2 linked regions of the Homo sapiens genome follow. The protein of the gene in region 2 interacts with the protein of the main gene of each other region in a pairwise test. Each region holds a gene or a part of one and is shown on either strand. Other genes may lie near its edges. The genes, in order: MEIS3 and FAM110B.

Evidence for each region.
Region 1: the proteins of FAM110B (region 2) and MEIS3 interact in binary tests that used the Homo sapiens proteins (3 or more experiments, as listed by UniProt).

The regions. Positions count from the first base shown.
Region 1 is NC_000019.10:47,416,508-47,427,704, reverse strand, and holds the start of MEIS3 (homeobox protein Meis3), read left to right. Parts: upstream 1-8,177; 5' UTR 8,178-8,623; coding exon 8,624-8,635; exon of another isoform or gene 8,636-9,957; coding exon of another isoform or gene 9,958-10,233; intron 10,234-10,354; coding exon 10,355-10,527; intron 10,528-10,741; coding exon 10,742-10,901; intron 10,902-11,002; coding exon 11,003-11,053; intron 11,054-11,197. UniProt on the Homo sapiens protein: Transcriptional regulator which directly modulates PDPK1 expression, thus promoting survival of pancreatic beta-cells. Also regulates expression of NDFIP1, BNIP3, and CCNG1.
Region 2 is NC_000008.11:58,135,220-58,149,284, forward strand, and holds the end of FAM110B (protein FAM110B), read left to right. Parts: intron 1-10,687; 5' UTR 10,688-11,011; coding exon 11,012-12,124; 3' UTR 12,125-13,565; downstream 13,566-14,065. UniProt on the Homo sapiens protein: May be involved in tumor progression.

The sequences.
Region 1 (11,197 bases), on a different chromosome or scaffold from region 2:
GGGACAAGGCTGGAGCAGGGACAGAGGCAGCAGACGAGGGGAGAGGGGAGTAGGAGGGTGGGAGGGCGATGGTGAGAAGGGAGTGGTTGAGAGAGAGAATGGATGGGGCTGCGTGAGGGAGTTCAGGGAGTGCATCTTGGCAGGAGAGAGGTGGTGTGTTCATTCAAACGGAGTAGCCAGGGAGAGTTGGGTGAAAGGGCTACTGAGGAGTGGGCAGGGTTGGGGAAAACGAGGGAAGGTGTAGTACCCCAGGGCTAGCAGCAGAGGGAGCAGTTGCCATACCTGGGCTAGAAGGGGTGAGCAGAGGCACCCGAGGCTGCAGAGACCTGGGGACCTGAGTCTGTAGAGTAGAAGAGTACAGGCATCACCAACCTGCACTGGGGATAGCGGGGCGCCGGGAGAGTAAGCACCTCGACCTCATTCTGCTCCCACCTGCTAGTCTCCTGCCACTTCCTCCCACCGGCCGCACCCAACCTGAAGTCCAAGGTAAGACAATAGGCCCACGGCATGGTGGCTCACGCCTGTAATCCCAGCACTTTGGGAAGCCAAAGCAGAAGGGTCGCTTGAGCCTAGGAATTCAAGACCAGCCTGGACAACATAGCGAGTCCTCGTGTCTCCACAAACTTTAAAAGTTAGCCAAGCGTGGTGGCATGTGCCTGTAGTCCCAGATACTCAGGAGGCTGAAGCAGGAGGATTGCTTGAGCCCAGGAGGTCGAGGCTGCCGTGAGCTAGGACTGCACCACTGCACTCCAGCCTGAGTGACAGAGAAAAACCCTGTCTCCCCACTACCAAAAAAAAAAAAAAATCGACCTTTGGCTTTAGGCCTTGATGAGAACAGGTTTGTGGAAGGTGTAGGGGCAGACGGTGCACTGATCTGCAGTGGGAGGTGGGGAAATTGAGTCAGGGCATGTAGATCACTCTCTGGAGAGTCCTGATGTGAGGAGGGGAGGTTGCTGGAGGAGCAGTAGAGGGCATTGACTACAGGGGCACAGGAAAGCAAGGGAGGCCTGTGCTAACAGCAGCTGGCAGTGATGGGGACCCCCCCAAGCATGATCTGCTTAAACCTATTGCCAGTTCTATACATCACCCCATTCCACGGAAGAGGAAACTAAGGCTCAGAGAGGTGAAGCAATGTGCCCAAAGTTTCACAGGTAGAAGGGCAAAGATGGGACAGGATGAGTTCCACGATGTAGAATGGGACAAGGGACACCTTCAAATTTTTTTTTTTTTAGATGGAGTTTCACTCCTTTTGCCTAGGCTGGAGTGCAATGGCGCGATCTCGGCTCACTGCAACCTCCACCTCCCGGGTTCAAACGATTTTCCTGCCTCAGCCTCCCAAGTAGCTGGGATTACAGGCGCCCGCCACCACACCTGGCCAATTGTTGTATTTTTAGTAGAGACAGGTTTTACCATGTTGCCCAGGCTGTTCTCAAACTCCTTTGAACTCCTTACCTCAGGTCATCCACCCACCTCAGCCTCCCAAAGTGAACTACTGTAATCCCAAAGGATTACAGGCGTGAACCATCGTGCCAGGTCTGGGACACCTTCATCTTAACAAATGCAAACAAAGGGGGTGTAGAGTCTTGGTGCAGGAAGATGAGTAAGGTCTCAGCTGCAAAGAGAGACACATTGAGAGCTTGAGGCTTGGAAAACATGAGGACTTTCACACCTGTCCCGTCACCTCACCCCGAAGGTCATGATTCTCACCTGGATGCAAAGAGCTCTATGGGGTCAGCTTGGGAGTGATTAACATTGTCCTGGGAGGCAGCATAGTGTAGCGGCTGACTTTCTCTGTGCCTCAGTTCCCTCATCTGGAAAATGCGTGATGATGATGCTAACAGTACCTATGTCACAGGGTTGTCGTGGGGATTAAATGAATATATATTAGCCTCCCAGGCCGGGTGTGGTGGCTCATGTCTGTTATCCCAGCACTTTGGGAGGCCAAGGTGGGAGGATTGTTTGAGCCCAGAAGTTCGACACCAGCCTGGGCAACACAGTGAGACCCCATCTCTACTAAAAATAAAAATTATCTAGGCATCGTGGTGCACACCTGTAGTCCTAGCTGCTCCAGAGGCTGGGGTGGGAGGATCACTTGAGCCCACAAGGTTGAGGCTGCAGTGAGTCATGATCATGCCACTGCACTGCAGCCTAGGTGACAGAGTGAGACCCTGTCTCAAAAAACAAACAAATGAACAAAACCCAAGCAAAACCTAAAAGTCATCTGGAGGCAGAACTCCTTCTTCCTGGAGGGACCTCAGTCTTAAGGCCTTCAACTGATTGGATAAGGCCCACCCATACAATCTGCTTCACTCAAAGTCAATCGATATTAAATGTTAATCTCATTTTTTTTATTTTTGAGATGGAGTCTGGCTCTGTCGCCCAGGCTGCAGTGCAGTGGTGCGATCTCAGCTCACTGCAAGCTCCGCCTCCCAGGTTCACGCCATTCTCCTGGCTCAGCCTCCCGAGTGGCTGGGACTATGAGTAGCTGGGACTACAGGCGCCGGCCACCACGCCCGGCTAATTTTTTGTATTTTTAGTACAGACGGGGCTTCACCGCATTAGCCAGAATGGTCTCGATCTCCTGACCTTGTGATCCACCCACCTCGGCCTCCCAAAGTGAGCCACCGCGCCCGGCTATTAATCTCATTTTTAAAATACCTTTACAATGGCTGGGCGTGGTAGCTCACACCTGTAGTCCCAGCTATTCAGGAGGCTGAGGTGGGAGAATCGCTTGAACCCGGGAGGCAGAGGTTGCAGTGAGCCAAGATTGCACCACTGCACTCCAACCCGGGCAACAGAGCAAGACCCTGTCTCAAACACACACACACCCCTTCACAGCAACATCTAGGCTGATGCCTGAACATGAGGGCAGCACAGCCTAGCCACGTAGACACATATGATTCACCACCACGAGAGGTCCCTCTTTTCCCTTTGTTTCCTCTCTGCCCATCCATCATGCCCCCGCTGGCCACCGTCTTAGGCTGAGCACCAACAGAAGCCAGCCCACAGCAAGGATGGGAGGGAAATAGTTTATTTGTGAGGTGATCCCAGGAGGCACTGGAGGGAGATGGGAAAGAAAACCATTAAAGGTGGTGTTGAAGGCTGGGCGCGGTGGCTCACGCCTGTAATCCCAGCACTTTGGGAGGCCAAGGTGGGCGGATCACCTGAGGTCAGGAGTTCAAGACCAGCCTGGCCAACATGGTGAAACCCCATCTCTACTAAAAATACAAAAATTAGCCGGGCACGGTGGCAGGTGGCTATAATCCCAGCTACTCGGGAGGCTGAGGCAGGAGGATCACTTGAACCCAGGAGGCAGAGTCTGCAGTGAGCCGAGATCACACCACTGCACTCCAGCCTGGGTGACAGACCGAGACTCCATCTCAAATAAATAAATAAATAAATAATAAAGGCAGTGTTGAATGAGCAGGTCACCCTGTGGACAATGAGGTCTCCATCCTGCTGGGGACCTCTCAGGGAACTCTGGAGTTCCCCACCTGAAGACTTTGGGTTATGTATCCACTAACTCCTGTCTGATGGTGGCCCAGGACCTCTTTAGGGGTGCTGACTTCTAGCGCCTCCTACCCTGGTCTGGAAAGCATTCAGGGAAGGGTCGCAGGTGCCAGCGTGAGAGATGCTGTTGGGTCCTAGGTGGTATGAGTGGGTCAGAGACAGCCTCTGCTATGATTACTTCCCAGAACGGGGGTCTCACTACCTCCCTCTTCCAGTAAGGCAATGGGTGGCCACCAGCACAGCACTGACTGTGCCCAGGTTGCCCTCTCTCCTGGTCTGATGCCCCCAGCTCCCTCCTCGGCCTCTCCCAGGGAATCGGGAAGGGTTGGTACCTGGCATCTCCTCCACGTTCTGCCGTCCCCCTGAGGATTGAAATCAGACACTAGGGAGGACTTCCAGGCACACATGGCCAAAGGAGAGAGGGATGAGGCTCCAGGCTTCAGTGCCTCCCAAGGTACCTCCTCACTCTCTCCTTCTCGCCACCTTTGCCTCCCGTTCCCTGCCTGCTCCCTGCAATTCTCTCCCTGGGGAAGTGCGGGGAAGGGAATGTCATGGGTGGTGGATTGAAAGGGGTAGGTGGGGTCAGTAGAGGGGGAACACAGACGGTGGAGGAGGTGGAGAAGGGACACAAAAAGAGGAGGGGAAGTTGGAGAGGGAGCAGAGAGCCAAGAACAAAACACAGGGGCCGGAGAGGCAGCAGAGACAGAGATACAGACAGGATGCAGAGAAGATGCAGACGGAGGAAGCCCAGAGACTCAGAACACAGCACCAGGGAGGAGAGCGAGGTGGGGAGCGGGGCGGGGCGGGCGTCCCAGGGCGCCAGGGCAAGACCCTCACCCCATTCCCAGCACACAAAGCCAGTGAGGCCAACGCCGAGGGTACTCTCAGAGACCAGAGATTTAAAAGGCACGGCTGGGCCGACAGAGCCCATGGCAGACAGAGGGACATGGAGAGACAGGGAGAGAGACACACAGAGACAGAGGGAGAGACAGAGAGAGATGGAGAGACAGAGAGAGATGGAGAGACAGAGAGAGAGGGAGGGACAGAGAGAGAAATGGAGAGACAGAGAGAGACAGAGACAGAGAGAAATGGAGAGACAGAGAGATGGTGAGACAGACAGAAATGGAGAGACAGACCCCAAGAGGGAGAGACAGAGAGAGATGGAGAGAGAGGGAGAGACAGAGAGAGAGGGAGAGAGAGGGAGAGACAGAAAGAGAGAGACAGAGAGAAATGGAGAGACAGAGAGGGAGAGATAGAGATGAAGAGACAGAGAAGGAGAGACACAGAGAGAAATGGAGAGACAGAGAGCAAGAGGGAGAGACAGATGGAGAGAGAGGTAGAGACAGAGAGATGGAGAGACAGAGAAAGAAATGGAGAGACAGAGAGGGAGAGACAGAGATGAAGAGACAGAGAGAGAAGGAGAGACAGAGAGAGATAGAGAGACAGAGATGGAGAGACAGAGAGAGATGGAGAGACAGAGAGATGGAGAGACAGAGAGAGAGGGAGAGACAGAGATGGAGAGACAGAGAGAGAGGGAGCAACAGAGAGATGAAGAGACACAGAGAGGGAGAGACAGAGGGAGAGACAGAGTGGAGAGACAGAGAGAGAGATGGAGAGGCAGAGAGGGAGAGACAGAGAGAGATGAGAGACAGAGAGGGAGAGACAGACGGGCAGAGACAGAGAGATACAGTTATAGAGAGACACAGAGACAGAGTCAGAACTGGAAAGAGACTCAGTAAGAGAGAGACAGAGACAGAAGGAGAGAAGGAGAGAGGGTGAGGAAAAGGAGGATGAGGAGGAGGACGGACCGGAGACAGGACCCAGAGGCACAGCGAGAAACTGGCAGAGGAAAGCAGATTCCAACAAAAAAGACGGAGAGGGCGAGGAGAGATAGAAAGGGAAGGAAAAGAGGGAGAGAGGGGTCTCGGTGGGAGCCGCAGCCTGTGCCCCGCCCCCCGCCCGGGTCAGGCCGGGTCCTTCCCGCCACCGCTGAGCCGTGGCTAATGGTATGATTGCTTGGTGGGGCGGGAGGGGAAGGGGGCGGCAGGCATTTGTCAGGGCCGGTGACGAATGAGCCACAGGAGTCTGGGCTCGGGTGATGGATGGCGTGGCCAGCGGGCGGAGGGGCGGGCGCAGGGGTGGGCGCCCCCACCAAGATAAATGTTTCCTTCTCCTGGAGCTGGGCCAGGCAGCGGGAGGACGGGAAGGGGGCGATGTATTTATGAAGGGCCCGGGTGGAGGAGAGGGGAGAGAGCCAGGGAGACAGAAGCCCAGGGAGGATACGGTGGGGGGGACAGGGAGGCGGAGAGAGGGAGAGGAAGGAGGGAGAAGAGACAGAGGCCCCTGGAGAGAGAGACCGAGAAAGATGGAGAGAAAGAGAGATAAGAAAGATGAGGCAGAGAAGACATCCAGACAAAGAGACACAGAGATACAAGAAAAAAAAAAAAAGCCAGGAGACAGACAGACAGACACAGCCCAGGTGACAGACAGACAGACATAGCCCAGGCGGAGATGGAGACAGAGACGGCCTGTCTTTTAGGGTCCCTTCTTCCCCCACCCTCCTGAGCAGAGACACAGATTCTCAGAGAGAGCCTGGAATGAGGAGGAGGAAGCAAACCTGGGCCCCCAGAAGGAGAGAGACAGACACAGAGCGGTTGATAAAGAGGGGAAACCGAGGCAGGAGGCTAGCAGGCCCGAGAGAGAGGACAGGAGGAACCCAAGGTGGATCCTCGTTCATTCGGTCTGCTCCTGTAGGCTTTCAGAGGGGATCCTGGGGACCACTGCGGATCCCCGGGGGACGTGGCTGCCTGGTGGGCATAGCCCCAGTGGTCGGTGCTCAGGTTGGGGCACTGAAGGGCCAGTCCGCTGAGAGATCGCCCAGCCCGTGCTGGGGAGACCCATGAGGTCCCCCAGATCTACTCATAGAGGGCTCCACGCTTCCCGTCTGTAAAACAGGTGCAGGACAGGGCTAGAGGGCGGAGACCCCTGCAGACTGGGAGCTGGGGTCACTCTGATGCCACCCAGGGAGCCACTCAGCCGGGCAGGGAAGACGCTTCCAGACACTGTCACAGGGAGGCCCAAGCACACCCTCGAAGAGCCGACAGGCAGCCGCGACGCAGTGACACAGGCACCCCCGCTCCAGCACCAGGCCTGGCCGCCACCTGCTCCCTCCCCCTGGGAACAGAAGGGTCCCAGGACTATTTAAGGGAGACAGCCAGGAAGAGAGAGAGAGAGAGAGAGAGAGAGAGAGAGAGTGTGTGTGTGTGTGTGTGTGTGTGTGTGTGAGAGAGAGAGAGAGAGAGCGAGAGACAGAGACGGACAGACAGACGGATGGACAGACAGAGGGAAAGACTGGAGGAAGAGCCTCAGAAAGCCGGAGCCTCCCCCCTGCTCCCTCCGTCCCCCGCCGGCATCCTCCATCCTCCCCCAATCAATTTCTCTCCCACACACTTATTTCTCCCTTCCCAACAGCTCGTCTCTTTCTTTAATTAGAAAGATTTATGCTTCAGAGTCCAAGCCCCCTGCTCTTGTTTTGGGGGTGGCAGGGACGACTCCAGGGTCTCTATTGGAGCTCCTGTCCCCCACTCCCTCCCCCTCCTGTCTGTCTCACTCTGTCTGCACCTCTCTCTCTCTCTCCTCCCACCCGCGTCTGTCTCTGTCTCTCTCTCTCTCTGAATCACACCGTCACTGGAGTTACCTCCCTCCCCACTCCAGTTAGGCCCCATCCCCATCCCAGGTGCCCCCTCCCTCCCTTCCTGCTCTGTCCACGCCCCCCACCACTGGCCGTCAGATGAGGCCGCACTTGCTCCTCTAGGTTTCAGAATCAGCCTGGGCTAAGGGGACCTTAGCATGCACCACCCCCCAAAAAAGCAAATAGAGCCAGAGACTCCTAACCCTTGCATCCCTCACCCCAAGTCTTGGCTGAGGGTGAGGTGGGGGTGGAGCAGACCAAAGGGCCTTGTGTCTTTAATTAAAAAGTGATTTAAATTAATTTTCTGCTCCAAAACCCCTATCTGGGGTGCGCCGGCCTTGAGGAAAGGCAAGGCCTCCAGACCCTTCCCCTCGGACTGCCTTAAACGGCCAGCCTCACCGCAGGACAGCCACGGGGGCAGAGCCCGCCGGCATGGGGACCCCCAGACTCAGCCAAGACCCTGAGTCCTGGCACCCTCTAGCTTAACTGTTTCTCCGTTATCCACAGCCCACCCCCGCCGCCCCCAGCGCACTGCCCATCCTGCAGAGGGGGAATCGAGCCTCAGAGAGGGGAGAGCCTACGGTGGGACCAGACTCCAGATTCCCACGTGACCCCTGGAGATGGCCAGGGAGGGGGTCCGTGGTGTGTCCAGGGGGCTCGGAGAACAGAGAGCCAGAGGAGAGAAAGGACGGGAGAAGCGGAGACAGAGAGAGACAAGGAGAGAGAGACTGGGAAAGAGGGAGACTGAGAAACCCGGAGCAGGAACCCCAGCCCTGGGTAGGAGAGGAGGGGCCTGGGGGCACCAGGGCCGCGGTCTCTTCCTCTCCTCCCCCCACAGCCTGCCCCTCCCCGACTCCCACCGGAAGTGCTGCTGCTGCCCTAACCCCAATCCCTCGTGCTGTAGCTCTGCAGGCTCACTCTGGCTCATCCCCTATCCCGCTCCTTGGTGGTTCTGTTTAATTTCCACAAGACAAGGGAGAGACCGGGAACGGGGAGCGCGGCTGCCAGCACCCCTGAGCCGCCGCCGGACCCTCCGTCGCCCCGGGCCGCCCCCCGCCCCCTGCGGTCCCCGGTGTGTCCGTCTCGGGACGGTTCGATTCCCTCCAGAGCCGGGGAAGGGACGGGGGGGGCCCAGAGGAGGGGGCCTCGGGCGCCCCGCCTGCGCCTGCTGCCCCCGCCCCGGCGGCGATGCGCTCCTGGCCGTGACCCCCGCTGGGGGCGGGGGCCGGGGTCCATGCGCGGAGTCCCCACCCGGCCCGGCGCCTGCCGCTGACGGCGGCGGGGGTGGGGGGGCGCGCGCCTGGCCTCCTGCCCACCCCCTGGCGTCAACACCGCGGGCCGTCAGGGGCTGCGGCCCCGGGCTGCGCCCTCCCCCGCGGCCAGGCTCTGGAGGGACCCAGGAGCTGCCGCCGGCCTCAGCCCATGGCCCGGAGGGTAGGTCTCGGGGCGGGGACCCCGCGTCCCGGCCGCTTCCGCACCCCCTGTCCCTGCATCCCCCACTCTCCGGCGCTGGCCCCCATTAGCCCATCCGTCCTCTACACCACCTCGCTCTCTCTCTGCCCCTCCCTCCGCCCCTGGGTCTCCCAGTCCCTGTGTGCCCCCTCTCTGCCCCCAAGTGTCTCTTCCTGGCCCTCGGCCTCGCCTCCTCCCCATCGTTTAGCTTCTCCTTCTCCCTGCCCCTCTGTCCCCCTCTGTCTGCCCCACTCTCCTCCTCCTTTCTGCCTCTCTGTCCCCCTCTCTCTGTCCCTGGTCTCCCCCCTCTTTCTGCCTCTCTATCCCCCTCTCTCTGCCCTCCCCCACCCGCAGTCTCTCTCCTCTGTTCCTGGGCTTCCTCCTCCATCTCAGCCGCCCGCACCTCACCGTCCCCCCTTTTTTCTGCTCTCCTCCGTCCTTCCCTTCGCTCTACTTTTGTTCCAAGCCGCCCCTGCCTCTCCAGGGCTAGGAGTGGGACAGGGGTGGGAGAGGTGGTCTCACCAGGCTGCTGGCCCCACGGAGCCTGTCTCCCTGGGGATGGGAACGGGGATAGAAGACAGGGGAGGAGGCGCGCGCCCGTTTTGGGGGTTCCGGGTAGGCTGTGAGGACCGCTTTTGGTGAGAGTGCCTTGAGCAGCGGGGAGCAGTTGGATTCAACTTCAGGGCACAGGAGAAGTTAGGAGAAGAGGGAGAGGGAAAGAGTGGGACACACAGAACCAGGGTGCCCAGCCAGGCGAGGGTCCGAGGCAGGAACGTTCTAGCCTCTTCCCGTGCGAGTCCTGCTGCCTCTTTGAGCCTCCGTGTCTTCATCACTGAGGAAGGGATTTGACCTGATGAGAGGAAGGTGCCCCTGGCTTCCCAGGTGCATGGTTCTGTGACGACAGGACGCGGTCGTCCTACCCCATAATGGTGTTTCTCTTGGGTGCGCAATCGTGTCTGTATGGTGGTGCGGAGTGACCCTCTCCGGCAACAAGTGCTCACAGCATGAGCCAGGCCCTGTGCTAAATGCCTCATTCATTCATTCATCCATGTGCCAAATGTCTCAATCATGCATTCATTCTTGTGCCTGGTGTTGGGCTGTGTGCATGTGTGTGTGCATGTGTGTGTGGGGGGGGGGATTTGGGTGTGACTGACACATGAGTGTGCACGTGGGTTGGTGTGTATGGCTGTGTCTACATGTGTGGTAGATTCACGTGGCGAGTGGAGTGTGACATGTTGTTGAGACTTACTCTGATGCGCTTATCTGCCAACTGTGAAATGAAATAGAAGACAGGGAGGCTTCGTATGTGTACTTTGTGTACAACAATGCGCGGTTCCTACAGGAGGTGTCCATGGATCTCCCTCTCTGTCTGTCTCTCTCTCTGTCTCTGTCACTGTCTTCTCACGCCACTTTCTCCATCTCTTTTCCCTCCCAGCCAGACCCTGCCGTCTCTCCCTCTGGGTCCTCCTGCCCACATGTCAGGAATCTCTGCCTGGACGGGGTCCTCACTCCCCACCGAGGCAGCTCCAGGGGACCTGGAGGGCTTCAAGCTTGGGGGCTCAGACACCTGGGGACCACAGGCAGGTTTCTGGGACACAGAAGGGCATCTCCTGGGTTCCAGGATAGAGAAGCTCCTCAGCCGAGTCTCGGGGTGCTGACCCCTCCCTGGGGCTCCGCCCTTCTCTTCTCACCTTCCCCCAGTATGATGAGCTGCCGCACTACCCAGGCATCGTGGATGGCCCCGCAGCCCTGGCTAGCTTCCCAGAGACAGTGCCCGCAGTACCAGGGCCCTATGGCCCGCACCGGCCTCCCCAGCCCCTGCCCCCAGGCTTGGACAGCGACGGCCTGAAGAGGGAGAAGGATGAGATCTATGGGTGAGTGGGGCCGGGTCTCAGGCTCCTGTCTCTCTCTCTCTGTCTTTCTGCTTCTTTGCTCCCTGGGTCTGCTTCTGTCTCTCTCTGTGTACGAGTCTCTGTCTCCTTCCCTCTCTGGGTCTCTTGTCCCCTCCCCAGCTGTTCTGCATCTTGGCAGCCCCTCCATCCACCTCCCAGCCTCTCCCTCAACCTCTCTCCTTTCCTGCCTCCCCAGACACCCGCTCTTCCCCCTCTTGGCCCTGGTCTTTGAGAAATGTGAACTGGCTACATGCTCTCCCCGTGACGGGGCCGGAGCTGGGCTGGGGACACCCCCTGGAGGTGACGTCTGCTCCTCTGATTCCTTCAACGAGGACATCGCTGCCTTTGCCAAGCAGGTGGGCACCTCCCACCCACCACACACCGAGTCAGAGAGCCAGCGAGGAGGGGTGGGTGGAAGGCGGGACATCCCCCTGCCGGCCTCTCTCTTCCCTCCCAGGTTCGCTCTGAGAGGCCCCTCTTCTCCTCCAACCCAGAACTGGACAATCTGGTGAGACCCGAGCCCTCCCCCACACCCCCTCCTCCAATGGGTCTCCTTCCCTGACGCCCCATCCCTGGGGTTGGTGGGGGGGGTGCAGAGAGAAGGCCACCTGGTCCATGTCCCCAAACCGTCATGATTGTTGCCCACGTGCCG
Region 2 (14,065 bases):
TGGTTTAGGGATGTTCACGGGATGGAACTCAAAAATGTGTGAAAGGCATTATTACAGTTCTGGGGACAACATATGTGCCTAATAAGAAATGGTCATTACTAATGGGGCATTATTACAGTTCTGGGGACATTGTATGTGCTTAATAGGAAGTGGTCATTACTAACAGGTAATTTTTTAACATAATTTTTGTAGCAATTTATCTAATACACTCACAGAGGAATTCACCCAAAATACTGCTTTTTCTCCCTTCAAATTTAAATGTTTCATAATTTTATTATAACACACATTTTATTTCAGAGTAAATATCATCTTCTGCCCTAAGGCTGTTTACTAGAAATTAAAATATTTTTCAAAAATAAATGTTCTGTATATATTGGCACAGTAAACTTTATCATTTGTGCTAGATTTGCCCTAGAGTACAAGTTTACACAGCTAAAGGAGAAAGCAGTAACATGCAAAGTGCGGACCCTTAAAATGGACCTTGGTAGAAGCACTGGGCACGGCTCCCCAAATCCACACCACCCTGGGTTCTGGTCTGGGCTCTCTCTGCCACTCACCAGTACTCACCCTCTCCTCTATACAAGGGGATCAGACCGCCTTTTAAGGAGGCTCGCTGAGATGAGGTGTGGGAACTCACAGCACAAAGACTTATAAACTGCAGGAGTTACTACCAGAGTTTATAATCACCGAGTTCATTGAGTTGTTATTACTGCTGGAAGGTGTGCCTGGTTCACCCAAAATGGGGAATCCACTAACTCTCAGACTTACAGTAGCCAGCAAGTCCTTTTTTTTTTTTTTTTTTTTTTTTTTAGACAGAGTATTTAGCTGTGTCTCCAGGCTGAAGTTCAGTGATGTGATCTCGGCTCACTGCAACCTCTGCCTCCCAGGCTCAAGCGATTTTCCTGCCTCAGCCTCCTGAGTAGCTGGGATTACAGGCACGTGCCACCACGCCCAGCTAATTTTTGTATTTTTAGTGGAGACGGGGTTTCACCTTGTTGGCCAGGATGGTCTCGATCTCCTGACCTCGTGATCTGCCCACCTCGGCCTCCCAAAGTGCTGGGATTATAGGCGTGAGCCACCGTGCCCCGGCCCAGCAAGTCTTATAAACTCTGTGACTGGAGTAGACTAGTCTGTAAAAAATGACAGTGGTCCCTTGAACTCCACATTCATTTAATATTTGGTCATGGCCTCACACATTGTCACAACTGAGCATGAAGCCACATAAAGCTCTCCACAGGAGAGGAAACACTGGCAGAAAGGGGGATCATTTTATGTTTGTTTGGATAGGGCGGCATTCTTATTGTATTTGCGTAAAGGAATTCTAGTGGCCCTGCTTTTTAATTACTTAAAGTAATTTTCATCAAGCAAGTCATTATATTTCCAAGTGATTCTTGGCACTGGTTATGCGCAGCACTGATTTCTGTAATCCCAGGTAAAAGGCAAGGCTCCCCCTCACTGATGCAAGTTAGGGGCCCTCTTATAATAACACATTCCTTACCTTAGGCCAAGGAAGAATGTCGAACTGGAAATGTGAAATTTTTTTCTGACTCTCTATTTCATTGTAGTTGTCTTAAATAGGACGAAAACATTTTAAAAGAAACTTCTAACATTTTTGTTAATGGCTTTACTTACAAATGAAAATGAAGCATGTGGATGACTTCTCTAAATGACCTTGGAGAATGACATTAAAGTAAAGAATCCATCGTGGATTGAGATTTGACCGGCTATTTTTCTCCTACCACCAGATTTCATTTGTAATAATGGCTTTATTGTTTACTCTAGCCTGTTTCACTCACATAACTGTTTGCTTTGAAATTTGAAACTACATATTTTCTCTGTAACTCAAATAAAAATGGGGTCATACAAGTGACCTTTTAGCCAGAAACTGCATGGTCAATCCTCTTTGACAGAAATAGCACAGGCCGTATCACTTGAGAGTAATGGAATCCTTTTAAGACAAAAGATCATTCATTTACCATAAACCTTGAAATCTAATGATGGTGATTATCAATGCCAAGTTGCAGACACTGGGGACAGCATTTAATAATAGCTTACATTGGCCAGGCACGGTGGCTCATGCCTGTAATCCCAGCACTTTGGGAGGCCAAGGCAGGCGGATCACCTTAGGTCAGGAGTTTGAGACCAGCCTGGCCAACATGGTAAAACCCCGTCTCTACTAAAAATACCAAAAATTAGCCAGGCGTAGTGGCAGGCGCCTGTAATCCCAGCTACTCAGAAGGCTGAGACAGGAGAATCATTTGAAATAGGAGGCGGAGGTTGCAGTGAGCTAAGATTGCGCCATTGCACTCCAGCCTGGGCAACACAGTGAGCCTCCGTCTTAAAAAAAAAAACAGCTTACGTTTACTGAACAATTTCTGGGCTGAGCTCCTGACCAAGCACTTTCATGTGTCACCTCAAGGAATTCTCACCCCAGCCAGTGAAGTGTAGGAATCATGGTTATCAATGTTCCATAAATGAGGAAACTCAGGTACACTAGCTGGAGAAACTTGCTCAGGGTCAAGTGTCCTGTGTTCTTTTTCCGTGCCCTAAGCATTTGCCCCACTGAATTCTCATTTCTTTGCCTGGATGAAATCTCAGACAGGACCTGTAGCCTTTTCAGTTCGTCTTCAATAATTTAGTCCCCAGATCAGTTTCAGACCTGGAAGAGTGCTGCCTCACATCAAGATCAAAACTCCACCTCTGGTCCAGTTAAACTGGTTTCTCTTCTCCCAGCTCAGGGCCGCATTGGCTTGGAGACCCTGTGAAGAAGAAGCATCATTTTCCCCTTTACTTGCTCCAGCTCCTCTCCTGCTCCTTATCAGACGGCTCTACCAGCCTCTACTGGGCAGACCCTGCATTGCGTAATGAGCAAGGGACGGACAGAGCATTCAGCGGAAGTGACAAGGTTTCTCTCCCTGGCTCTTGCAGTGGGAATCAATGTCCCCTGGGCATGGCACATTTCAGAGCTGGTTCTCTCTGGGAGCTTTTGGGTTCCGTGGAGGCAGCCACGCCTCTGCTCAGCTAGTGGATGCCCCCAGCCTTCTCAGAGGAGGGCTTTGGGCAGACATTGTTTTCTGTTGGCCTCCTTTGAGGGGACTTCTTTGAGAATACTCCTAGACCACCTTTCCCCGGCACATGTGTGGGCCGAGCAAACCCTCATTTTTGTGCCTGTGGAAAGGCAGCTTCATCCTGCCTGTGTGATCTGGTTAGAGAGTCCATTACAGACTCTGCCCTTAGACTTCTCAGACTGGAGGTATAAGCCAGTTCCCAGGCTCCTCAGCTCCAAGGGGCCTGTGTTGGGCTTTTTTGGGTGGCCTTGAATTCAGCCCCAGCCAGTGTGAGATGAGAGGAGGCTATGGCCACCATTGTGTAACTGAGCACCGAGTGAAGGGCTTTAGGCAAAGCTATTCCCATTCCAGTAGACTTGCTAGCTTGCTTCGCCCACCTGACATCCTGTGAAACCTTTGTGGGTAACAAACTGTACCCAGTCCACTCCCTCCTGACTTGCCACTTGGAGGATCCTGTCACAACGTAGTGCATATTCACTTAAGTCAAAATAACTTTTCCGTTTGATCAACACGCCTGTGTGAGTTTTGTGCTGTTGCACTAGTATTCCTCAGCACACCTCAGGAGCACCACTGGGGTGGACATTCCTTGACCTGTATCTGTAAAAACGTTAGAAGGTAAAAGTTGGCCTTCCCTGCATCTCTACACCTGGTTCAACATTTGCTTCCCATCCTCTGGTCATATAGAGTAGATGTGTCAAAAGAAACAAGACTTTAAAAGGTTGCTGAAAAAGTGGAGAAATGATTTACTCATCTTGTCGAAAAAATTAAAGTGCCTAATTAAAACAAAATAATGGAAACACAGAGCAAGAGGATACTTTATTAAATAACATTGGAAGACCTACTGTAGTCAGCTGAAAGAATACGCTAAAATATGACTAGACTACTGGAATGAGAAGTTTAAATATTATTAGGAAAAGTCTGTGGTTTTAAAGAATTTATAACATGATAGTGTTGTTGTCAAGAAGATTATTTTACTTGCAATCCGGAGCTGATTGCTGATGGCAATGCTAAGGTCAGAAAGAGAAGATTCAGGCATCAGAATTATAGATGGTGAGGGATTTCACCATGGAGATAAGAAAGAAAAAGACACAGCATTCAGTAATTGGAAAAGTGCAGGTCCTGAAAGGGTGATGGTTTTGACTTAATGTTTCCAGATGGTTGGCCCTCTGATTTCATACTTTCTGTCCAATTTATAGTGTGCAAAGTCAGTCTTTTTTGGTCAGCCTTTTACTCCTCCATTCGCTCTTTCACTTTTCTCCCTTACTTTTGCATTCTTTACAAGTTATGCTCACAGTATAAAAGGGGTTAATGAAAGTGATGATGTGCTTGGAAGAGAAGGAAAAGGGAAGATGTTGAAAAGCATAGCATATATTATGAATTAAAATGAATAAATACTTGGGGAGGCCGAGGTGGGTGGATCATGAGGTCAGGAGATCGAGACCATCCTGGCTAACAACGGTGAAACCCCGTCTCTACTAAAATTACAAAAAAAATTAGCTGGGCATGGTGGCAGCTGCCTGTAGTCCCAGCTACTCGGAAGGCTGAGGCAGGAGAATGGGATGAACCCAGGAGGCGGAGCTTGCAATGAACCAGGATTGTGCCACTGCACTCCAGCCTGGGCAACAGAACGAGACTCTGTTTTAAATAATAATAATAATAATAAATGTCTAAATAAAATGGATAAAGGAAGCAATGGAATGGCATTGCTGTTGGTTAAAAATGGCTCAGGCAGACGGAGCAGCAGGAATGGACACAGTGGGTGTGGAGGGACCACTGTAGTTGTAGTTCTGTTTGGCTTAAGCCCAGGGTGCAGAGGAAGAAGGGAACAAGGATTGGAGGGGAGAGTGTATACTTCCTGCCAACCACTTCTCCGTAGTCAAGTGGGAAGCTGGGAACGACTCATCCTCAACATGTACCTCCTCACCCTCTGCATCCTGTCTGTCTCCCAGTTCAGCCCAGCGTGCCTCTTAAACATCTCTTGAAACTGTCCACTCTTTTCTCCACCCTAAAGCCACCCTCCTGCTAAGAGTGAAGTGAATGAAAATGCCTGTGTGCTCTTATTTAACCCACTCAAAAAGCCCTCAAGAGGTAGGTACTATTGCTATCCCCATTTTCCAGATGGGAAATCTGAGGCACGAGAAGATAAAGTGAACTGCCCAAGGCTACTCAACCATTACGGGGCAGAACCATAGGCAGTGCCATATTGGGCGGTGCTCAGAGCCCAGCTGCCATGACCCCTTCCCTGGGAAGCTCTGACTCACCTCTGTGCAGCCACACTTAATCCCCACTCATCCTGTCCCCATACTGCAGCCAGGGGAGTTTAAAAAAATACAAGTATGACCATGTCACCAATGCTCAATTACCCAATAAAATCCAAAGTCATCTGCCTTTCCGCTACACCTAGTTGGCCTCTGACCGCTGTCCCCTAGCACTCCATACCAGCCACTGGAGTGTCTTGAATGTACCATGAACTCAAAAGCTGCCCTGATGAGGGATGCCCTCGCCTCCTGGGTCTTTATTGGAGTTTGTCTCCTCCTTACCCTTCCTTTACCTTCAAGTCCTTTGCCACAGTCCTGCCAAATTTATTTTCTACATCATTCATTCGATTCACATTTACCAAATGCATTTTGAATCTTTTTTTTAAGTTCAGGATTTTTCTACGTCTTACACATAATTGCTCCACCAATAGGTACTAATTAATTGAACACAGCCATAATTCAGTCAGTACTCTTGTATTGTAAATGAATCTCTCTTCCATTTGTAAAGAATCCAAAAGTTCACATTGCCGTGGGAAACTGCATTTTTACTTCAAAGACAAGGATGCGACTGTTCTTAAAAGGGAAGCCAAGAGTATAGATATGAGAGTGATCAGAGTCAAGTTGGAACCTGATGCTTAAAGTTAGTAAGCACAAATACTATTACCAGAAAAATCAAAAAGCAGTGTTCCAGAGAACAGTTTTACACATATTGTAAACGTTTTGTTATCTGGCATGTTAGGAAGCTAGAAGAATCAGTTCTAGAATTCTTAATAACTTCAAAGGTAAATTGCTTCTTTTATTTGCTCCCAAGAATGTTTGAGCTAAAGACATTTTTCAGCTCACCAGATTGAACACATTTGTTTTTATAGATAAGAAAATCAAGACACTTAGATGTTAGGTGACTTAGAGCTGAATTACTCAGCCTTGCTCTTTCAATACCCCCCTTTTCCTGCTGTGAGACACAGGGGAATTACTCATTCTCACATAGAAACTTCTGTGGGTGAATCCAGGTTGTGTTCAGTTCCCAGGGCCCTTGCTCTAACTCCAGTGCTTTCTTTCCTACTTAAAATTTAAAGACTAATTAGGCATTAACTATCCTTTTCTTTTTCATTACCAGAAGCACTCTTTAAAGAGGAAGTAACAAAACAGCAGCCCAAATGTGGCCAACAGTGTTTTTAATATTGAATTTTTAAATCGGGAGAGTTTGTGCAGAGCTCTGGATTTGCTGTTGCGTCAACAATGAGCCACATTCCCCATGGCAGCCCGTAGCGGGGGGCTCCTTTCCGAAGGCCACACACTCTCCCATTATCTGCCTGGCCTCAGAGGCTTTGAGGCACAAATTGCCCGGATTACAGGAACTTTGGCTTTAGCATTTTTTTCAAATAAACTGTGTATGAGGTTCATTCTCTATATCTAACCACCTCCAGGATTGCAAATGTTCTTGAGGTCTCCCCAAGGTTATAGTTCAGCTGAGGGTCCTGTTCACCTGACTGCACCTGTTCACCTGACTGCACCTGTGAGGAGCTGGCAGATGGGAAGTTAGAAAGGTTCAGGCCACTTTGGTTTTAAAAACTTGGAATTCTCTGAGATTGCTATTTCTGTGCCTAAAAAGCTCAGACTTTTGCTCATTCAGAGACAAGTAACTTTGGCCTGTTTCCTCTGTGCTGGAGGCATTTGGGTTCTAATGGGATGCTGGCTAGCACAGAAATGGGCTTCCCCCCTTTCCTGTTGCTACTCAAAGGCAACAAACAGCATCACCTGGGATCTGGTGAGAAATGCGTAATCTGGGTCTCACCCGAAATCTACCAAATCAGACTGTGCTTTAAGGAGATCCTTGAGGGGTCTGCAGGCCCATTAAAGTTTGAGAAGCACCACTAGAGTGAGTAGTGGGAGATAACATTGCTCTTCCTTGTCCTTGGGTCCTTTGTCCCCCAGCTGGCTCTATGTGCCACCTGTTCTCCCTGCACAAACCAGGACTCCCCCACAGATGATGTGCTCCCCCACCCCGACCCCTGCCACCATCACCCCCAGGCCAGATTGCTTTTGAGTTCACATTTGAGTTCATATCTGCTCTGATTCAGCGAACCATTAGCACCTTGGCTCTGCCAAGTTTCTTTTCCCCAGTCCTTTTTATCCCTTCATGAAATTTTCAAATGGATGTTAAACAGGGTAGAATGTAGCCAAGATGGTTTATGAATCGAAGTTTCTCCCACCCTCAGGCTGTGTTCTCTGTCCTGAGTCATAAGTCAAGGATCAGGCAAGGCTATATAATTATTTTTGTTGATGAAACCCTACGGGGCCAAGATCTAATTTTCCTTCCTCAAAACAACACGAAGCCCCTCTCAGCCTGGCGGTTGGCCTATCCCATCAGTGCCTGACTGCACCTCAGGGGGCCTGTTCAGGACATCAGAGGGCTGACAGCAAGGCCACAGCCAGTAGAGTATCATGTGCCACAGTGCTCTCTGAACAGACGTCATGGTTATCTCGTACAAAGTCTACACTACAAAACTCAGAGTATTTCTCCAGCACTGTATAGCTCTGTCCCAGCCCACACTGTTTCACAGTAAAAAATAAAAGAACCAGAGTTAAGGATTAAGTAAATATTACAAGAGACAGCAACCTAAGTCACCTGCTTATTTTTGAAGTAGGTTTACTTTGTTGGCTAAACCAGGTAGAAAACTTGGAGTATGCCTTAGTATCCCACAACACCCCAAACAGTATCTTTAGTTTGTTCTGTTGCTTTTGGGTCTTCCAATAAGATGAAGTTGTTTTTTTTCCTTCCCAGAGTTCACATCAAAACTATAAACTCTAACCATGGTCATGTCAAAACATCATCACTGTGTTGAAAATTATTAGGGAAATTGGGAATAGCAGAGGAGGAGTGGGAAGGGGTAGAAGCCAAAAGGAAATGAAGTATGAAATACTTGCAGATAATTGCTATGTGTGACATAATTCTTTCACACAGATTTTAAGATTAGTAATTGTTGAGGGGTGTGGAACAATTGTGAGTGCTGGAGGAGCCGTCTTGAGGGTGTCTGCCACATGAATAGAGAAAGCAGTGTGCAAGGAAGACAAGCAGCTTTCTGGAAAATGCTTCTTAGAAGATAGACTGGTATTCCTCACTCTTGTGAATCGACAGTCAGGCTTTTTATTCAGTGTTGCCAACAGTACCAAAGCCTACCTTAACAGACACGCAGGTGTGCATGGAAGGCCACGCCAGTGGTGTAGGTGTTTTAGGCTTCTGGTCCTAATATGATAGAACTAGAAGAGAAGATGGTTAGAAGAGAAGCACAGGCCTGCATGAGGAGGAATGTTACATGAGAACTACAACTCATCTTCAGAGAGCGTTGGCCTAAGAACAGTCAGTGCGGGACCATAGAAAAATTCAGTCATTCACCAATATTCCAACACGCCATTTTGAAACTGGAAGTAATTCCTTCATTCTTAGATCCTCAGAACCTCACGATTTTACAGTACGAAGGGATTGAAGGAATCTTGTCCAACTAACTCGTGCCCCAGGAGAAGGGAGATGAACTTTGTCTCCCACTGCCCACTAGGTGGTATTCCCACTCTAGTCCTCAGGCACAAAGCTGAAGGTTGCAGATCTTGGTCCTGCCCCTCACTGTGCCCCCAAACTTTCTGGTATTGTCCTGGGGTCAGCCCTCTCCCAAGGGTCCCGGGTATGATGACCTCGGAGTTGCATCCTGGCCCAGGCTCTGCTGCCTGTTCTGGCTCTGAGTCTCTTCTGTAAAGAGGATGAGATTGTGCCTCCAGAGGAATCGGGGCTCCCTTCTGGCATTTCATTCAAAATGTGTTCAAAGAAACAATCTCATTTCATCTTAATGGGAGGAGGTGTTTTTTGTTTTTTATACTAAATTGAGGTATCAAAATAGAACCGCACAATTAAAGGAAATTGTTAATGTAGGTATTGCCTTGGGGTTTCTCAAATCTTGCACAGGAAAATATTTTTATTAGAACAAATCCCTTCACAGATTACTAAAATTATCTCTAACAAAACATGGTGATGGGTTGCATTTACAGATTTAAGAATTTCAGGAAATTATAAGGAGAAATACCAGCAGATGTGGTTGTAATATGACTTTATTTATTTTGTAAATTAGTTATTTGGCATGTTAGTTGAATAGGTTACTCTCTTAGCATTCCTAATTATAACCAAAGATGCTGTTAAGGTCATTAGCCCCTTGCTTTGGAGTGCTGATGCATTTGTAAATGTTCTCTGCCTGCAGTAACAGGCTATGGGAGGAATTGTTTCCAGGGGCTGCAGGGTAAGAGTTACATTATATGGCATATGAAATAAAAAGACTCCTTACAGAATTACAGTAGGAATATTGATAAACGTTCAACTATTGACAAGTGGGTTTTATTGTTGTTGTTGGCTTGGTAGTCAAGTTGTCCCATGAAAGCTTACCTATTACCCAAGTTTTCTATAGTATTAAAGTAACATATTTTTAGGTATGATTGGACACTTTTAAGACTTTGTTCCTAGTACTGTAGAGGATTTGGGAATATACATACCATGAAGAAACTTTTGATTTCTGCTCATTAAGTATGAAAAATTATGGATAACTTAGGGACAATCAAATTATCTACTCATATGGTAAATTTGGAAGTATTTCTATGGATCTTCTAATGTTAAAAAAAAATAAGCTTGTGTTTAATGGGTGGAACTCCATACACATTTGTGGTTTTCAGGAGAAAGTTTTTAAATATATTGGTTGGCCAAAGTAAGATAACTGAAACGTGTTGAGGTTTTTTTTTTTTTTTTAAACTTTGTAGCTTTGCTGCCAATCCCATTTCTTGCCCTTTTCAGTTTATGAAGTTAAAAAAGTGACTGTTGCAAGTATTCCTGAGAAATTGGTAGTACAGAGGGAGAAGTTTTGCTTCATTGCAAAAGAGATAATTCACGACGTTGCAACCGGGGGGCATGGAAGGGATTCGTAGGAACTCAGTGGCATGTAATGAGCTGGGGAACAGGGCTTGGCTAAGCCCTCATTCCTACGTTCATCAAGTATTTGCTGGGTTTTGAGCTGAGAAATGCCAACCGGGCGTGTTCAGAAGGCGGATCTCACCAATCCGGAGGCAGCTGGAAGAGTTCGCGCGTGGGAAACCTCAGCCCTTTCTTTCTTCCCGGCACAGCGTTGTGCTGCCGCGCGTCGGCGCAGGCGGGGGCGCAAGGCCCGGGTCGTCCCCCTCGCGCGGTCGGGAAAACAGCTACTGAGCTGCGGCCCACGACCCTCGGCCGCGCAGGGGCGGGGCGGGGGCGCTGCGGGGTTTCTCTGTTGCTAGAGCCGTGATGTCACCCGCCCCTCCTAACCCGCGGTTGGTTGTTTTGTGTTTCAGCTCTGCCTGCAGTTGAACACAAAGACCTGGAGGAGACTCCCACCTCCTTCAGGGAGAAGAAAGGAGGCAGCGAAGCAGATTAAAGGAACTTGTGGCTTGTGGCCTTTTTGTGCAAGGGCCGCCTGGAAGGGGAGAAAAGTGTATGAAAGCCACCGTGGCGGTTAATGAGCTGTGAGATGAGGCGCTGCTGCGGCCGCTGCTGCTGACACTCGCTCCCAGGCTGCACCCGCCGCCCTTGGCGCTTCATGTACATGTGTCTATTCAGGCCTTGCGGAGGCGCCCAGAAGAGCATCCAACACGGCTGCCGGGGAAAGACCGCCCACCATGCCCACGGAGACCCTACAGACAGGTAGCATGGTGAAGCCGGTCAGCCCCGCGGGCACCTTCACCTCTGCTGTGCCCCTGCGCATCCTGAACAAGGGGCCAGACTACTTCCGCAGGCAGGCCGAGCCCAACCCCAAGAGGCTCAGCGCCGTGGAGAGGCTGGAGGCCGACAAGGCCAAGTACGTCAAGAGCCAGGAGGTGATCAACGCCAAGCAGGAGCCCGTGAAGCCCGCCGTGCTGGCCAAGCCCCCGGTGTGCCCGGCTGCCAAGCGCGCACTGGGCAGCCCCACGCTCAAAGTGTTCGGCAACCACGCCAAGACCGAGAGCGGCGTGCAGAGGGAGAACCTGAAGCTGGAGATCCTGAAGAACATCATCAATAGCTCCGAGGGCTCTAGCTCGGGCTCGGGGCACAAGCACAGCTCCCGCAACTGGCCGCCCCACCGGTCGGAAGCCACTGACCTGCACCGTCACTCCTTCGCGGAGTCCCTGAAGGTCTACCCCACGCAGGGCCGCAGGAGCCCGCAGGAGGGCGGCTCCCACGTGGGCAGGAGACTGCTGGAGCAGTCAGCCGAGTCCTTCCTCCACGTGTCCCACAGCTCTTCGGACATCCGCAAGGTGACCAGCGTGAAGCCCCTCAAGGCCATCCCCTGCAGTAGCTCTGCCCCTCCCCTGCCTCCCAAGCCCAAAATCGCAGCCATCGCCTCCATGAAGTCCCCCGAGGCCGACCCTGTGGAACCAGCTTGTGGAGTCAGCCGAAGACCCTCCCTCCAGCGGTCTAAGTCAGACTTGAGTGACAGATATTTCCGAGTGGACGCGGACGTGGAGAGGTTCTTCAACTACTGTGGACTGGACCCGGAAGAGCTGGAAAACCTGGGAATGGAAAACTTTGCAAGGGCTAATTCTGACATAATATCCCTCAACTTCCGCAGCGCAAGCATGATCAGCTCAGACTGTGAACAGTCTCAGGACAGTAACAGTGACCTTAGAAATGATGACAGTGCCAATGACCGCGTGCCGTATGGCATTTCTGCCATCGAAAGAAATGCTAGAATCATCAAGTGGTTATATAGCATCAAACAAGCTAGAGAGTCACAGAAGGTCTCCCATGTGTAAGACAGTGCGTGGAAAGGAGGGAGCGTGGGTCTCTGTGCTTACGCAGTTGTGAAGGTTGTGAGGTCTCCTTGAAGTGTTGTGAGCTTCTCCACTCTTTGTGTTGCTTGTTGTGCAATGTTTTCAAGTTGCATGCTTGTCAACATGGGGACTGACCTGGCTTCCACGTCACCATCGCTACAGAGCCTGGCTGAACACGCGTCATCTGCCAAAAGTTTCAGGCCAGAATCTAATTAGGGCTTTGCTCGTAAGCAAAACTGTTTACATGAAAATGGTATACAACTTCTTCGATATTTATGTGGTTCTTGTGTTTTTATATCCCGCGCTATTGTGTCTTAATTAAAAGTTTTATCAACTGGCTTTTAAGTTGAGAGCAGAATCTTTTTGAAATAAAAAGCCACTTTGCCTACATGTGAGACTATTCCAGTGGGACAGTAAATGGGATCTGCTACCAAACAGATAATGACTGACCGAACATAGAACCAGGCTGGGTTTTCTGTGGAATAAAGTGGTGAGCCTGACGTTAATCGTTTACATGTTGAAATTCTCTTGCCACTTAGTGAAGCAGTCATTGGGGTAACAATGCTACGTTTTGTGTCCGATTCAGTGTGTAAACGTTGGTGGTTCTATGTAATACTGACCCCAAGGAAAGACGATCAGATACAAAGAAAGATGGTTAAATCTAGGAGGTTGGGTGTTTGGGGGTTTTGTTGATGTTGTTCTGATTGGGATAATTCAGAAATTCCTAATATTATCTTTCGACAGAATGACCACCCTAAAACAAATACTGAATGCCTTTAAAAAAAAAAAAAGTTGTGGTTTTTTGTTTTTTTTTTTTTTTTTTTTGGTCGAGAACTACTAATTTCATGCTATTTCTTTCTCTCTCCCTTTGTTGTTATTTGATTTGGGGGAAGGGAGTGAGGCTTGTGCAGATTTGAGCTATCTGAAGACATGAACAGAAGTCAAATACCAGCCATATCAGTAGAGCCTTCCATTCAAAAGTGAACACACTTGGTAGCTGAACCATATCTGAGCAGCGTGATTCTGTTGTCTTGCATATGTTATTCTCTCAGGCTGTGGATCTTTGTTACAGCTCTAGGAAACTGTAGAAATACAATGCTATGTAGCTTTTCCACCCCATGGTCTCTAGTGCTGCCTATCAACTTGTCCCCTTTTTTCCCAATAACCTGTCTTCCAGGTGGTACAGTTAGCTGTCACTCAGCTGACACCATGATGTGGCAGCAGAGAGGGAAACCTACAAGTGGTTTGCCTCATTGCCTTTGCCACATCTGAAGTTCTCAGCAGCACTACCTTAGACTTCATGAGCTAATAGGAAACTTTTTATGGTGTAAATGCTGTAAGACTTTGTACATACTTCAGTTGTTATGAAATCTTTAAAGAAAAAAAGAAAAAGTTACGCTAATAAATTGCTGTGGTGCAGGCACTAATGGTGGTGGTTTCTCTTTGTCCTGTATTGCACAAAAGTTTAACTTTGGACTATGAAACAGAAGCAGATTTTTGATAGGCTTGAAGAAACATTATTTCATTAAGTTATTTTCACCATATTCCAATTACTCTAAACACCAGTGTTCTTAATTGTGGCTCTAGCAATGTGCTTTTGCTAAACTGATTACATCAAGGTTCCTAAAATGTGCTGCAGCATCTCAGTTCACACTTGTGTTATTTTTGTCTTTTCTTAAACATCAGGATTTTTTACATCTTCCACACAACTCTTCAGTTATAAATATTTTGAGTTCTCACCTTGGAGGCACACCTTTGAAATGTATGGCTTCGTTTTTATTTGTACCAGCCCAACATCCCTACCATGGCATGTGTTCACACACTCGCTCCTCCACTCCTTCCTTCATTCCTCTTCAAAATGTCACTGTTTGAGTGACTCATTTCAGGTATCATGGTAGGCACGGGACTGCCATAGTCAACAAC